Linked DNA regions of Homo sapiens: region 1 is linked to region 2. A link means that fine-mapping ties the variant in region 2 to the expression of a gene that starts in the linked region. Tissue or cell type: whole blood. Region 2 holds a variant in brackets; the other region holds the start of a gene. All regions are shown on one strand. Distances are between the middles of the regions.

Region 1 (8,088 bases), 30 kb after region 2:
TGCTCCAGGTGGAGAAGGCCTCAAGAAGGTGAAGGGATGAGCTAATCTGAGCCTCATGGCCCCATTTCCAAGGATGTGATTAGTGGAGAGTCACCTGGGACCTGCTCCATTTCAGGAAACCCGGTTATGGGAACTGGTATGGGACAGACTTTGCTCAGGACCCGAGAGAAGCAGTTAACCCTTTCCTACTGTCTGGATGGGAAACAGCTTAATAGTTGCTTGGTTCTTTCCCAGGGGAGGGAGTCTTCAAATGGACTTCCTTTTGCATCAGCTTGGAAAGGCGGACCTCAAGGATATTTTCTACTTAAGTTCCTAGGGTCAGCCTCTTTAGGGCATTTGAAAGCTCTAGGGGAGCCTAAGAAACAAGGTGGGGCCTTAAGAAGTGTCTAGGAGACACAGAGAGGGCACATTCAAAAGGAAAGCTCAACAGTCCCTAAAATGTCATTGTTCATCTGGCAGCACTCCCTAGGATGTTCTGGTTCCACTCAAACCCTTGAGTTTGGGTCAGAATCAGTCTTGGGCTCTTCTTATAGGGGGGCAGGGAGTGTGTCTCAGACAGAGGGTTTCTTTTTGGAATAAACAAGATATCCAAAGTAGACATGTGATATGGTTTGGCTGTGTGACCATCCAAATCTCATCTTGAAGTGTAGTTCCCATAATCCCCATGTGTCATGGGAGGGACCAGGCGGAGATAATTCAATCATGGGGGCAGTTTCCCTCATCCTGTTCTTCTGATAGTGAATTAGTTCTCAAGAGATCTGATGGTTTTATAAGGGGCTTCCCCCTTCACTGGGCACTCATTCTTCCCCTTCCTGCTGCCATGTGAAGAAGTATCTGTTTACTTCCCCTTCTGCCATGATTCTAAGTTTCCTGAGGCCTCCCTAGCCATGATGAACAATGAGTCAATTAAAACTCTTTCCTTTATAAATTACCCAGTGTCGGGTATGTCTTCATGAGAATGAACTAATACAACATGAAACAGTAATATAAATTCTGAGGTGGGTGCAGAAATGGAAGCAGAATCAATATGTCACCCAGTCTAAGGACTGGAAATAACTGGCTCCCTACAGACACTGCCAATAAATGAGACCTGGAAGGCCAGGGCTGAAAATATCGAGAGCCATACTCAAAGCCTCCTTGGTTGGCCTAGTTAACTAAGGTGACCTTAACCAAGGGCAGGTCATTTAGTTTCTTTGGGCTTCAAATTTCTTCATCTTAATAGATAACTGATAATTTCCAAAGTCCCTTCTGGCTCTAACATTCTAGTGTTCTGAGGATGAGGTCTGAGCAAAAAACCGTTTTTAAAATTTTAATTTTTTTTTTGAGACAGGGTCTTGCTCTGTCACTAAGCTGGAGTGCAGTGGCATAATCATAGCTCACCGCAACCTCCAACTCGAGGGGCTCGAGATCCTCCCACCTCAACCTCCCAAGTAGTTAGGACTGTAGGCATGCATCACTGTACCTGGCTAATTTTTAAATTTTTTTGTAGAGACAGGCTGTCACTATAATGCCCAGGTTGGTCTCAAACTCCTGGCCTGAAACAATCCTCCTGCCTTGGCCTCCCAAAGTGCTGGAATTACAAGCATGAGCCACCATGCCTGATTTATTCATACAACTTCTTCTTGGATTCTCATTTTTATCATTTCTAAAACAAAGATAACATCTTTCTTACAAGATTACAAAATTGGGAGAACTGCTTAAGATGAATAAGAAAAAGTGAAGAGCACTTAGCACAGAGTGGATTCTCACCATATATCAAGCCTATATTGCATGCTGCCTGAATACGTGGGTTTACGCTACGGAAGTCCTGATGGCAAACCCTCATATCGAAGGCTTCCCTCCTTGCTTCTCCCTATGTCCAGTAGGGAGGACAGCTGTGTCCCTGGCTACCTTTGAGAGGCCTCCACTGCCTCTAGGGTGGTATTGGGTGCTCCATTACACCTTTATCCCTGAAGTTCATTCCAAGGACAAGGGCTGAAAGCTAGAGGCTCATTTCCAAGGACAAGGGCTGGAAGCTAGGAAACCAACTCATCTTCATTCTCAATGCCATTCTCAAGGTGGAGCATTTTCTGCTGGGCCAACACTCACAATGATAATTTTTTTTTTTTTTTAGACAGAGTCTCACTCTGTCAGCCGGGCTAGAGTGCAGTGGTGTGATGTCAGCTCACTGCAACCTCCACCTCCCGGGTTCAAGCAATTCTCCTGCCTCAGCCTCCCAGGTAGCTGGGACTACAGGCACATGCCAACACGCCTGGCTAATTTTTGTATTTTTAGTAGAGGTGGGGTTTCACCATGTTGGCTGGGCTGGTCTCGAACTCCTGACCTCAAATGATCCACCCACCTGGGCCTCCCAAAGTGTTGGGATTACAGGCGTGAGCCACTGCGCCCGGCCACGATGGGAAATATTTTAAAGAACCATCCTCAATACCTTGGTTTCTCACCCATAAAATAGTGACGATAACAATTTTCTTACAAGATAGTTGAGAGGATGACATCATTTATGTAAAGAGCTAGTGGGGTCCGACAACAAGCAGTCATTCAATGTTACTGGTCCCTTCCCCTTGGCAACTCCTCTTCTGAAAAAGGACAAGAGACTGGGGGTGGGGATGGGGAGCTCTGCGGGGGGTGTGGGGGGAATGAAAGGAAGACTCCAATGATTCCTCAAATGCCAGCTGTTTATCAAGTTTGATGGTTACGATGGATTTTCCAGAAATAAAAGCTACCTTGCTCCAATAGGTCTACCTGTGAGCAACTGAGATGGGGAGGAATGGGGAGGAGCGCTGAGCATAGACTCGAGAAGGGTATGATTCAGGTCTCGATAGACAATGTTCTTTGGAGTAGCACCAAGGTTGTGTACTGGGCAGGCACTCTGCCAGCTCGCCAGCCTGTTCTGTCCAATCCTGGCGTCTTGGAGCTGGGGTGGAAGAATTTTTCCTGAAGGAAAGCAGCCAACACCCTGTCCCACCCTTCTCCTTGGGCAACTCTTTGCCAGGCAGGAATCTCTCATCAGGGTTTTCTTTTGGCTGTCAGATCACCAGCAGTTATAGGCTTAAGCCCCTGTCACCATGCCCCTCCCGGAACCTGGCAGAGAGCAGCAGCTGGGACTCTGCAGGACCTCCTTATTCCAGCCAGGAATGCACTTGGAAAACCCCAGAGCTTCTCCTGTCAGCCAGAGCCCAGAAAAGCCAGCTCCTGGTCTTGGCACATTCAGTGCAGTCAAACGTGGAAAGGGGCCTGGATAGGGAGGGGTCGACTCCCAGGTCCCACCTTTGCGGGGGAAGCTGGTCCCCCTGGATTAGGCTGGGAGATGCTTGGGGCTGGTTGTAAGGTAAAAGACGGGGGGTCGTTTTTTCTTTTTTTGAGACAGAGTTTCGCTCTTTTTGCCCAGGTTGGAGTGCAATGACGCGATCTCGGCTCACTGCAACCTCCGCCTCCCAGGTTCAAGCAATTATCCTGCCTCAGCCTCCCGAGTAGCTGGGATTACAGGCGCCCGCCACCACGCCCGGCTAATTTTTGTATTTTCAGTAGAGACGGGGTTTCACCATGTTGGCCAGGCTGGTCTCGAACTCCTGACCTCAGGTGATCCACTCGCTTCGGCCTCCAAAAGTGCTGGGATGACGGGCGTGAGCCACTGCGCCCGGCCCAGGGCGTCGTTTTTAATTTCAGATTAGTAATTTTTTAGTATATGTCCCAAAAATTGCCGAGATATGTGTATGGTTATAAAAAAAATTCGCTGTCTATATGAAATTCAATTTTAATTGGCCGTCTTTTTCTTTGCTAAGTCTGGGACCCAGGGCTTGGCCTGGGGCAGCCCCCGCCGCAGACAAGGCTGTTGGAGGGGTCACGAACCCGCTTGGTAGCCCCGCGCCGTTACCGTCGCCCCTCCCGGCCGAGGGAAGGGTCCTGGAAAGCGCGAAGGGCGGCCAAAGCCCGGATTAGGGCCAAGGGCCGCATCTCGCCGCCACCGTGGGAAACTATCTTTGAGAGGAGGGAGGAGTCGTGGCCTGGCCTCATTCCCGCTCACCTCCAGCCTTGGCCGCCTCTCGCGGGCTCTTCCCCGCCCCGAACCTCCCACCTGCGGGCCCACTGGCACCCGCGGCGCTCAGAGGCTCTAGGTGGCTCCCGGCGGCGGTTCGCGGTCTCGGGGCCCTGCAGCGTCGAGTGCGCAGGCGCGGCGGGCAGGTGGGCGGGGCGTGCGCGGGCGCAGGCGCGCGCGCGGGAAGGGATGGGCTCGCGCTGCCGGGCGTGGGCGTGGACTCGGGCGTGGGCACTGGCGGAGTTCCAAGCCCGGGCTGAGGAGGGGGCGGCGGCGGCGGCGGCGGCGGCGGGCGGGTACCCTTCGACTGGGCGTTGCCGCTGTTCCCTGCGCGGCATGGAGGGGACGGCCGTGGCCGTGTTCGAGGTGATGCTGGGAAGGGAGAGAAAGCGGAGGACACTTTCTGAGGAGACGGGCTTTGTGAGGAGACCGCGAAGTTTGGGCAGAGGGGTCGGGCGTCGCCTAAGGTGAAGGAGGAAGGTTCGGGAATCGAGGCCCGTCTCCCACGGGGAAGCGAGGAAGTAGGAGCAGATGAGGGCTCTCGCTCGCGGGGTACTCTGTGGGGGAACGACGCCCTCTCTCCAGCCTACGGCTCAGAAAGCTGCGGCGTTTGCCGAGCACCGGCGGACACCCAGGGGCAGAGCCTGACGCAGCCTCGGAGGTGCCTGCCGGAGCCCAGCGCCTTCCATGCACCGGGTGCTGGGAGGGGGCGCGGAAAGAAGGAAAGGAATGGGGCAAGCCCTGGCGTTGCGGGGCGGGGTGGGGGGAGTCGGGGCGCCAGGACAGAGGCAAGGAGGGACCCAGTGCAGACTGGGAGCGAGGGAGAGTTTTTTTAGGCCCCGGTGCAGGTGCAGGTTTCTGGGTTCGAAGCAGCTGGACGTGGAAGGGCGAGGTTCAGAGGCCACACCTGTGCTCGGGGAGCTGCTCTGGAAGACGGCACTGAGCGCCTGGCGCCGGCCACGCCCCGTGTGCTCATTTCATTACCCACTTTCACGGCCGGTGCCCAATGGGACGTTGAGCTGCTGTTTGTGAGGGGTACTGGGCAGGTGACAGAAGCACAGGCTCTGAGGGCACCTGAGAGAGTACCCCCGGGCGTCCTGCCTGTTTGTTGTCATCAAAGAAGGCGGCGGGATTCCATTTTACAAATAACCGAACCTAGGCTAGAACCCAGGGCGCTGACTCATAGGCCAGTGTTCTTTTCCCAACTGCGCTGTCATACCGACATGAGAATATCTTTAGGGTTTGTTTGTTTGTTTGTTTGTTTGTTTGTTTTTTGAGACGGAGTCTCGCTCTTTCGCCCAGGCTGGAGTGCAGTGGCGTGATCCCGGCTCACCGCAGTCTCCGCCTCTCGGGTTCAAGGGATTCTCCTGTCTCAGCCTCCCGAGTAGCTGGGATTACAGGCGCACGCCGCTACACCTGGCTCATTTTTGTATTTGTAGTAGAGACAGGTTTTCACCATGTTGGCCAGGCTGGTCTTGAACTTCTGACCTCAAGTGATCTGCCCGCCTCCGCCTCCCAAAGTGCTGGGACCGGCGTGAGCCACCGTGCCCGGCCCGATATGGGAATATCGTAACAGAGGACGTGTGAAGGAATAGTTAGACTCTACACGTACCTGGAAACCATTCTTGTTAACTGGTACAAATGAGGATCTTAGTTCCCAGATCTCCCTGCCTTTAAAAAGGGGGTAATAATTTTCCTTGTGTTGCCTCCCTGTAAAAGTGAGAATCTGTTTGCATGAATAATAATGGGAGTTGGCCGGGCGCGGTGGGTAGCCTGTATTCTCAGCACTTTGGGAGACCGAGGCGGGCAGATCACTTGAGATCAGGAGTTCAAGACCAGCCTGGCTAACATGAGGAAACTCCGTCTCTGAAAAAAATACAAAAATTAGCGGTGGCTCACGCCTGTAATCCCAGCACTTTGGGAGGCCGAGGCAGGCGGATCACCTGAGGTCGGGAGTTCAAGACCAGCCTGATCAAAATGGAGAAACTCCGTCACTACTAAAAATACAAAATTAGCCAGGTGTGGTGGCACATGCCTGTAATCCTAGCTACTTGTGGGGCTGAGGCAGGAGAATCGCTTGAACCCAGGGGGCGGAGGTTGCAGTGAGCTGAGGTCGCACCATTGCACTCCAGCCTGGGCTACAAGAGCAAAACTCCATCTCAAAAAAAAAAAATTAGCAGGGTGTGGTGGCAGGCGGCTGCACTTCCAGCTACCTGGGAGGCTGAGGTGGGAGGATCACCTGAGCCCGGGAGGTTGAGGCTGCAGTGAACCATGATGATGCCATCACTGCACTCCAGCCTGGGAGTCAGAGTGAGACTCTGTCCCCTCTCTCCCCCCAAAAATAAATGAAATATATTTTATTTTCAATTTGTCTCGAATAAATGTGTTTTTTTTTTTCTTTTTGAAACGGAGTGTTGCTGTTGCCCAGGCTGGAGCGCAGTGACCCAATCTTGGCTCACTGTGGCCTCCACCTCCCGAGTTCAAGCAATTCTCCTGCCTCAGCCTCCTAAGTAGCTGGGGCTACAGGCACACACCACCACACCCGGCTAATTTTTGTATTTTTAGTAGAGATGGGGTTTCACCATATTGGCCAGGCTGATCTTGAACTCCTGACCTCAGGTGATCCACCGCCTCAACCTCCCGAAGTGCTGGGATTACAGGTGTGAGCTACCACACCCGGTCGATTAAATGTTTTACCCAGACATCTTGGAGTCCTGTTCAACTTAAAATATTGTGTGTAGTCTTTACTGCATTAGAACTTAGAAATAATAGCTAATATCTGTTAAGCATTTGCTATTTGCCAAGTACTGTGTTAAGCATTTTGCACATATTTTTATTTAATTTTTTTTTTTTTTTAGTAGAGATGGGGCCTCACTATGTTTCCAGGGCTCAAGCGATTCTCCCACCTTGGCCTCCCAAAGTGCTGGGATTACAGGCATGAGCCACTGCGCTCAGCGTTGCACGTACCTTATTTGTTTACTTTCAGCAGCAGCCCTATGTGGTAGTTTTATCCCCATTTTAATAGATGAGGAGTCTGTGGTTTGGAGAGATTAAGTAATTTGCCCAAGGTCACATGCTAGAATTTGGCACATCAGGGATTCAAATCCAGGTGTGGAGTGCAGTGGCCTGATCAGGGCTCACTTCAGCCTCAATCTTATGGGCTCAAGAGATCATCCTGCCTCAGCCTCCCCAGTGGCTGAGACTACAGGCACACGCCACCACGCTGGGCTAATTTTTGTTGTTGTTAGTAGAGATAAGGTCTGCGTATGTTGTCCAGGCTGATCTCAAACTGTTGAGCTCAAGTGATCCTCTCACCTCGGCCTCCCAAAGTGCTGGGATTGCAGGCATAAGCTACCGCGCAGGGCAGCATTAGCACTCTTAAATAGTATTCTGACCCTCAAAAGTGTTGATTTAATGAAAGATCAAGATGATTCATAACCAGATGCCACTCTTATTCATAGTCTTCATGTTGGCTTTTATTTGGGGCAGGAAAAAAGAAACAAGAAAAACAAACTCCCACTTAATTTTTCCCTAATTATTATTTCCAGATGAATTTATCTTCTGAATAAAGGAATTTATTGTCTCAATTTCCTGTCTTACTGGGCATTATGTTGAATTTCACTGACTCTTTTCTTATGTCACTCTCCTAGCTATTTATTTTGTTTAGACACAATACTCTGAACAAACCTAAATCTGACATTTTAGAAGCAAGAATACAATTTTTGGGGGGAAATTAGAGTTACTAATTTAACTGGGTCATAGAGATGTATTATTACTGTGATTTCTAAAGAAGATTATGTTTTCTTTGAATTGTGCTCTTTTCAGATTTTGAGATTTTTAATAATTCACTGGAAGTGTGACATAGATGTATCAAAGGGAGCATTGCTAGAAGGGCAGCTAGTGATTTCCATAGAAGGATTAAATTCTAAGCACCAGGCAAATGCTCTTCATTGTGTAACAACTAGTAAGTAGAGAAAGAAAAAATATTTTCTATCTCTTTTGTCATGGTTTATGTCGTAGCTTATTTAAAAATTTCAATTAGAATCTTTTAT
Region 2 (8,103 bases):
GACCCCGCTAAGGGAGTTGGCCAACTGCCGGTCATTGAGGGTCACGATCGTTTGCTCGATCCACTGCAGCAGCTCCGAGGCCAGGGACTCGTATTTCTCCACCAGGCGCTCTGCCTCCATGGCATGGTCCAGCACCTGGGAGGCAGAAGACAGGGACGTGACAGTCCCAGCCACAGGGTCCCTGGCCCAGTCCTGCAGCTCCACCCTGCCCTTGCACTAGGGCAGTAAGACCCCTCAGCCGGGCCTCCTCTGGCCTTTATGCCTACTGCCCATGGACAGTACCTTGCCAATTCTCTTGCCTTCCACGGCCAGGGCCTTCATCTTGGAGAAGTAATGGTAGTAAGTAGCCACATAGGTAATGATTGACTTCTCATCTGGCTGGTCCACATTCACGTCTGCAAGAGAGGACCATTTGGGTCAGGCCTCCCAGAAGTTCATCCATAACTTGCATCACTTACCCCAAACCCTGGGCCTGCCCAGTCCTCCAAGGCTGACATCTCTCCATCTCCTTTTAGAGCAAAATGACAACTTACCCATTCAAATGAAAAGGGCACCAAAAAGCTCATCTTTTTTTCCCCTTCTCCTGGAAACAAGAAGGGCCCTCCAAGCAGAGCACAAACCCCAGAAGCACAAGGAAGCTTTTACCCAGAGTTCCCCGTGGAGACCAAAATCAGTTGTTTGGGGAAGAAAAGCAAGAAAAGAAACAGCATTGCTATGTGGGGATGGATCATGGACTTTTAGGCTAGAATAATGTTTAAGAAGTCAATGGATTGAGGGGCAGTGGGACGGAAGGTATGAACTAAGCCTCCTGAACCTAGGATGCTCAGATCGATGGGCCCTGTGATCCCTGCAGCTCAGTGGGGACAGAGGCCAGCTCTCAGCACCATCTCCAGGTGTGATCACGCCGTTTCTAACCTCAATCCTAAAGCTCAGCTGTGGGCCCAAGGAGGGGAGTGTCTTTCAAGCCGAATTGGCTTCCAGCGCACAACTGAGGCTGACCATAACTTGAAATCTGTGGGTTCTTTTAAATAGGCCAGATTTTATCCTAAAGGTAAGACTATGAGACCAGAAGCCTCTTGCCTATTTCTGGAAATACATGGGCAGGCAGGAGCCACTGAAGTCATCTCGGAAAGTTACAGAATGCTTAGCTTTATTTCCAGGTTCTGAATTACAGCCATGCTACCCAGAGGCTCTCCAAGGAGCACTGCATGAAGCCTATGTCTGTTGCTAGCTCGCTGACACTTGTCATTCTGCAGTAAAAAGGCCCAGGTGATAGGGCTACAGGTAGAATGGAAAACAGGGAGAAAATGGCCAAGACCAGTGAACATCCACCCAGTGAACTTAAGGAGCACCTCCAGCAGGCGAGCCTTTCTCTCCTCCCTGTTCTGGTTGCACCAAGATTGGTCTCCACTTTCCCAGAGGCAGCGGAGGAAACAGGCTCTGGAGCCAGGCTGCCTGAACGCCAATCTCAGCTCCATCTGCCGGAGGACCTGGGCAAGTTGCTTACCCATTATAGGCCCCCATCTTCTCTTCCATAAACTGAGGATAACAACAGTACTGATTTCAAAGGGGTGTTGTGAAGATTAAAACACATCAAGTGCAGAACCAGGTATCAAATAAGAGCCTAATCGCAGTCAGGCGCGGGGGCTCACACCTGTTATCACAGCGCATTGGGAGGCCGAGGTGGGCGGACCACGAGGTCAGGAGTTAGAGACCAGCCTGACCAACATGGTGAAACCCTGTCTCTACTAAAAATACAAAAATTAGCCGGGCGTGGTGGGATGCGCCTGTAATCTCAGCTACTCAAGAGGCTGAGGCAGGAGAATTGCTTGAACCCAGGAGGCGGAGGTTGCAGTGAGCCGAGATCGCGCCATTGCACTCCAGTCTGGGCAACAGAGTGAGACTCCGTCTCAAAAAAAAAAAAAAGAGCCCAGTGGCTGTTACTGATCTCATCGATCTCATCGGCATTATGACCAGAACCACAGGAACCAATCAGCAAGGTCAGCTGACTACAGGCCAGTTCTGGGTGAGAGTGGAAGGTCATGCAGCTTAATTTTTTTTCTTAAAAATTTGTTTTAAAAAAATAGAGATGGGTCTCGCTGTTGCCCAAGCTGGAGTACTGTGGCTATTGACAGGTGTGATCCCACTACTGATCAGTGTGGGAGTTTTGACCTGCTCCATTCTGACCTGGACTGGTTCAGTCCTCCTTAGGTAACCTGCTGGTCCCCTGCTCCCAGGAGGTCACCAGTGCTGAATTTAGTGTAGATATCCAATCAGCATAACCCACTGCAGCCTAGAACTCCTGGGCTCAAGTGATCCTCTCGCCTCAGCCTCACTAGCAGCTAGGACTATAGGCAGGTACCACCGTGGCCAGCAACATGTAGCTTAATTTAGAATCCTAGAATTTCAGAAGAGCCCTTAGAGACCAATTCTCTCTTTTAAGACATGAGGAAACTGAGCCACAGAGAGGCTAGCCACTGGCTGTATGTCACAGAGCTCCTCTGTGCTCTGCCTGGGACACAACCCACAGTCCAGGGCTCTTTCTGTCACTGGGCTGCCTTTCTTCCTACCTACAGTCTTTTGTTAAAAAAAAAAAAAACCTGAGAAATGATTGTCACACCATAAAATTCAACCTTTCAATGTATATAATTCAGTGGTTTTCAGTGTAAAGATATATATTTTTTTTGGGGGGGAGGGGTAGTCATGGGGTCTCACTATGTTGCCCAGGCTGGTACCAAACTCCTAGGCTCAAGTGATCCTCCTGCCTTGGCCTCCCAAAGTGCTGGGTGTGAGCAACCACGTGTTTTTCAGTATATTTACAAGGTTGTGTAACCATCACCACTTTCTAATTCCAGAACATTCTCTTCCCCCACCAAAGAAGCCCCTGTATCAGTTGGTGGTTACTCCATGTCTTCCCCCTCCGCAGCCCCTGGCAACCACTGGTCCACCTCCTGTCTCTACCCTACCACCTCTTTTTCACATAGCTCTGGCCCCACCTTCGGGATCCAGCAGCTTGGTAAGTCCCAGTTCCTTTTCAGCCAGATTGAATGCATTCTGCAGATTATAGTGTGCATTACACTTCTTCAGAGACTCAAAATCCAGCAGGTCTGGCCTGGGTGGGGAGGCAAGACAGAAGGGATCAGAAACATGTGAGATCT[C/T]GAAGAGGAAGAGGAAACCCACACCAATCTTTATCCCTAAGTCACCGACCCAATTTTGTCCAGAAGTAGGCATCCCAAACCCACACTGCTGCTCACAGCCCCTCCCCACACCACCTCCCCTGCTTCCCATCACAAGTGCTCTGCGCAGCCCTGCACCCCCATGTTCTGGTTCTGCTCCGAGTGCTATTCCTTCCGTCTGACTGCTGTGCAGCTCATCTCATCTCTGTCTCCACATGTGCACCCCAGGTCATTAGCCGACCCAGCAGCTCTGCTGCGTTTGCTAACCCCATCTTCTCACCGGTGTTTATGCACGATGGCGTTGAAAGCTAGTCCATCTCTCCAGCTGGTGGTGAAGTTGTGTACATTGACGTTGGGATAACTATAAACAGAGATTCAGAAAATGGTGAGTAGGGCTGAGCTCTGTTCTATGACTCCAGGGCAGTCACCAGCTCATGGTTCCTGGAGCCCAGCACAGCCTGGGGGTCACTGACCCTCCAGTGCCACACGCCCAGGGTGTCCTCACCCTGCAGTCTTCATCTGGCACCACAGAAGCAGGGCATCCTTGGCTGACTTCTTCTCCTTGTTGTCTTCTGTCTCCACACTGATGTCTTGGATCTAGGAAGGAAGCAAGCAGGGCCCTCAGTCCCTGGACAGGAACTCCTGGTGTTATCAGAGATGCTCAGATAAATGGCAGGAAACTGCTCTTTAGACTGTGGTAATGGGGTGGACAGGCATAGCCTGAGGTCCTTTCAACCTAGGCCAGGGACCACAAAACACTGGGTGCAAGGGATTTGAGGCAGCAGATTAGGGTAGGATGCTGAAGAATGGGTGTGTCTGAGTGGAGGGTGCTGGTCCCTCCAGGTGGGGAACTGCAGGCAGAAGAGTGAACATTTTCTGAGAGCTGGCTCTCCAAGGTCTCTAAAAGCTGGCTCTCCAAGGTGAAGCCGACAGAACCCGGGAAGGAAGGGGGTGATCAGGAACGCTGTGATGGCATGAGGACACTGGGGCATGAGGAGGAGGAGGGTGACTGTTCCATTGGGGGAGGCAGGCAGAGTTTATGGCAGGGAATTGGTGCCAGTGACCAGACCCTCTAGAAGTTCCCAAATCCCTGTGGTGAAGGACCAGTTGGTAAAACTTCCAGTCTCCTGTGGACCAACCTGTGGTCCTGGTCCCATTGCACACGACCAACACACAGACCAGAACACAGGGAATTTGCCACAGGGGTGTGACATTCACCCAAGCTGGTTTCTACCCTGCTGAAAGAGGGGAGTCCACTGATCTGGTGCTTGGATAGCGCCGCCATGGCAGCTGCTACATAAGGTTCTAGATCCTCCATCTTTGTGTTTGTTGTGTCATGGGCCAGCAGGAACGGCTTGCGGTGCAGAGCCAGGGCAGGAACCACACCCTGTGTGACAGTGTGCTGGGGTACCTGGAATCGAAGGATGATGGTCCAGACCAGCCCAAGGGTCAGTCGGTGGTTTCCGTCCACAATGTCATGGGAGCCCATGTTTTCCAAGTGCACTTTCTGCTCCTTGAGGAACTGCAGTGCCTTGTCCACGTTCTCCAGGCAGTGGATCCGCATGCGGCCCTTTGTAGGCTTTGGCTGTGGAGGGACGGGGGCAAAATGGCACGGGACTGTGGGCTTCCACCTTCTTCCCCAGCCTTCACAGGGCCCAGCTTTGCACACCTTCCCCATGACCTACCTCAGGAACACAGACAGGCACAGCCCCAGGGCTGGAGCCAAAGCTGAGCTTACAGATGAGGCTTGGGCAGATTAAGATTCCCAAGGGAATTAATTGCACCCAGAGTAGGTGGGAAAAGAAATGTTTTCAATGGGGCCACTGTTCCTGTCTCCATGAAGCAATGCTCCTATGTAATCTAAGTGGCAAAGGCACTTGAAATGAACCCATCCTCTGAGCAGAGGGAGCCACTGCTTCCCGCCCTGTGCCGTCACTCTCTCTGAGGGCTGTTCTTCCAGCTGGTCCCCTTGGACACTTTTCTAAGGCCCCCCCACTTCCCTTCATGACCACAGCTCACCAGTATCTCTCCCGAGAGCACCTCGAGGAGCCTCAGCAGGTTGCGTCCGTCCCGGAGGTCGCTGTACAGGTCCCCCACCCGGCACGTGACCCGGGCCAGGTGCGAGTTTACCCACTTGGTGAAGGTTTTCTTCTGCACAGCTTCTCGTTCATCTGTGGTGGCAACATGGGTTTATTTCTGTCCCTCGAGTTCAGTATGCCTGCTTCTAAACACCAGTTGGCAGGGGTGGGGGATGGAGAAGCCTGAGAGATGGGAAGCGGGGTCCTCTAAGGAGGAGGAAGGGAAGGAAGATGACCGGGAGGAAAGCCCGTAACTTGCAATGAGCTCATAAGCAAGGTAAAGAAGAAAGATGAAAGACAGAAAATAGGCGAAGGTTGGGTGTGGTGGCTCATGCCTGTAATCCCAGCACTTTGGGAAGCCAAGGCGGGCGGATCACAAGGTCAGGAGATCGAGACCATCCTGGCTAACACGGTGAAACCCCGTCTCTACTAAAATTACAAAAAATTAGCCGGGCATAGTGGCGGGCGCCTGTAGTCCCAGCTACTCGGGAGGCTGAGGCAGACTGACGTGAACCTGGGAGGGGGAGCTTGCAGGGAGCCGAGATTGTGCCACTGCACTCCAGCCTGGGCGACAGAGCAAGACTCCGTCTCAAAAAAAAAAAAGAAAAGAAAAGAAAAGAAAATAGGCTTTGAGAAGAAAGGATGAAGACCTTTCATCCTCAGAAACCATGGGACATGCAGGGAGGGGCTGGGATGGGGCAGTCGTGGAAGCAGTGGAATGCTGGTCAAGTGACTTCATTCATCAGAGCCCCAATGTCTCATCTGTAAAATGGGAACATCACTTTCTACTTCAACAGGTCATTGTGTTGATTAAATGAGATAAGGTATATAAAACAACTAGTTGGTGCCTGGCACAAAATGGCTCCTTGGTGAGCTGCTGTTATAAAGTGGTGTGATCTGGCCCGAAGGAGAGCAAGAGCTGCCCAGGCCGGTGGGAGGTATGGCTGTTCTCTTTTGGTTGCAGACAAAGGAGAAGGTGTGGGCTAAAATTATTGCAGCGGCTCTTCCAAGCGGTCATTAGGACTTGATGGTATAGAGGCTGCAGGCCTCCTGAGTCAGCTTACTGTCCTTGGATAACTTAAAGAAAAGGCAGGCTCCTCTGCTTCTGGGGGTTGGGGACAGTACATTCAGCTGGCTGCAAGGGGATCCAGTTCCAGGACATAAACACCCCATTGCTTAGAAGAACAAGATGTTGAGAGTTGGGAACTGGGAAAACAGTGAGGCCAGGAAACATGGGGGAAAAAAAGCCAGGCAGAGTTAGGTACCAATCTCAAAAAAAAGTTAGGCAATGCCCTGCTGCCCAGCCCACAGGGGAGGGGAGCTACTGAAGAGGGGAAGTAAATACTAGGTTCCGTAGGAAAATAAAAATTAAGAACGTTCTAAGTGACAAAGTGAAAGCATCAGAAACTGCTCTGGTGATGAGGATTTCTGCCACTTTCCCACAGAGAGCCCTGTGCAAGGACCCAACCCAAGTGGCTGGGGTCTGAAGAGTCACTTTTGCTTCCGTCTCAGCACCAGCATCTCAGAAACCGGAAAGACTCATCCCTTAATCTCACATTCCTAAGCACCTCACCCATAAGACACAGCAACACACCCACGTCGCTCCGTGTCTTTCACCTCCAGCCACTATACTGGCACCAAACCTGGGGTCCTAATAACATGGGACGGCCCCATGCTCCCCAGCACCCATGAAACCAAGGTGCCTTGGGGCCTCCCGGCAGGTCTACAGGCCCCATCTGAGCCAGGAGGAGCGTGGGTCACAGGCCATTGCTGGATCCAGGGGCACTGCCCTACTGCTGGGCACCCTGGGGTGAGGCCATTTTGGCACACAGTCAGAAGACACAGAATTAGTGGCAACTAGGAGGAAAATGGGCAAAGCCAAGCACCAGAAACCAAGTGTCACGTCACAAGACGCCCACAGCATCCCTAGATCCTTACACACACACACACAACAGTGATTCCCAAAAACACACCTAAGCACTTGTGCCAGAGTGAACACACACCTGCGCAGACATCTACCTGGGCCTGTTTGCACAGATCCTCTCCTTCGAGACACTCCCTTTGCTTCCACACACACTGCCCCCGTGTACACATTCAGACACACGCTCAGAGGCCTGGAAAACACAATCTCCAGGTCCCTGGGCCTGGCTCACCCCTCCGCCTCCCCTAACTGTCCTGGCCAGCGCTCCACCGCCAGATCCGGATCCACCTCAGAGGCACTGCTGGCGCCTCCCCAGGTGCTGGCACCCCCACGCCCTCCATGGCTAGTTGCCTTTGCTCCATGCAGCACCCCAAGGCCCGGCAGTCACACCCACCCATGCCATCATACACGGTCCCTGCCAGCAGGTCCAAGCCTTTCCCCATTCCGTTGACATCTGTGTATTTTCCGGCCTCTTGTAATTATCCCCTCTAAGCTGCATCACGTTGTCTCCCAACACAAACACTGGAGTCACACTGTGTCCTGTGCCAGGTCCTCAGCTCCGGCCACTCTCCCCACACCCAGGTCCCTCTCGCCCAGGCACAGTCGTCCCCACAGGGGGCCCCCGGGCCTCACCTTGCAGCTGTTTGAAGCGTCCTTCCAGCACGCTGGCATACTGAGCAGGGTTGATGAAAGCAGCTGGTGAAAGCAGGAGGCCCCCGGGGTTGTGGGCCCCTTCCACAGCCTCATAGTAAAACTCGCTGGCCTCATGCAGGCCGTTCCCGTGCACCCTGCTCACTCCGTTCCCATTCATGCTGCCAGCTGCTAGTTACAGAGCCCAGGGCCCAGAGTCCATGCTCCCCGCTGGCAGGGGGCCAGTTTCTGTTCCCCAGTGGAACCTCAGGCTGGAGTCCAGCGTCAGGGGATTCAA

What was found. PIP is the estimated chance that this variant, and not a neighbour inherited with it, causes the effect.
Region 1: TOP6BL starts here. The variant in region 2 is fine-mapped to the expression of TOP6BL in whole blood (TOPMed, PIP above 0.99).

What each region holds. Positions count from the first base shown.
Region 1 is chr11:66,740,518-66,748,605 of GRCh38, forward strand. TOP6BL (TOP6B like initiator of meiotic double strand breaks) reads left to right here and starts at 4,252. Exons shown (of 15, transcript NM_001302084.2): 1 at 4,252-4,402. It also overlaps a transcript of SPTBN2 not described here. RefSeq lists enhancers at 3,479-3,979, 4,471-4,580, 5,021-5,110 and silencers at 3,941-4,330, 4,741-4,840.
Region 2 is chr11:66,710,635-66,718,737 of GRCh38, forward strand. It overlaps SPTBN2 (spectrin beta, non-erythrocytic 2), which reads right to left. Exons shown (of 38, transcript NM_006946.4): 4 at 5,196-5,347; 5 at 4,588-4,761; 6 at 3,682-3,773; 7 at 3,457-3,537; 8 at 2,997-3,112; 9 at 283-395; 10 at 1-135. It also overlaps the pseudogene RN7SL12P. Among named protein-coding and RNA genes, the nearest start is that of SPTBN2, 15 kb to the right of the region's middle. The variant C/T (reference allele first, on the strand shown) is at 3,159.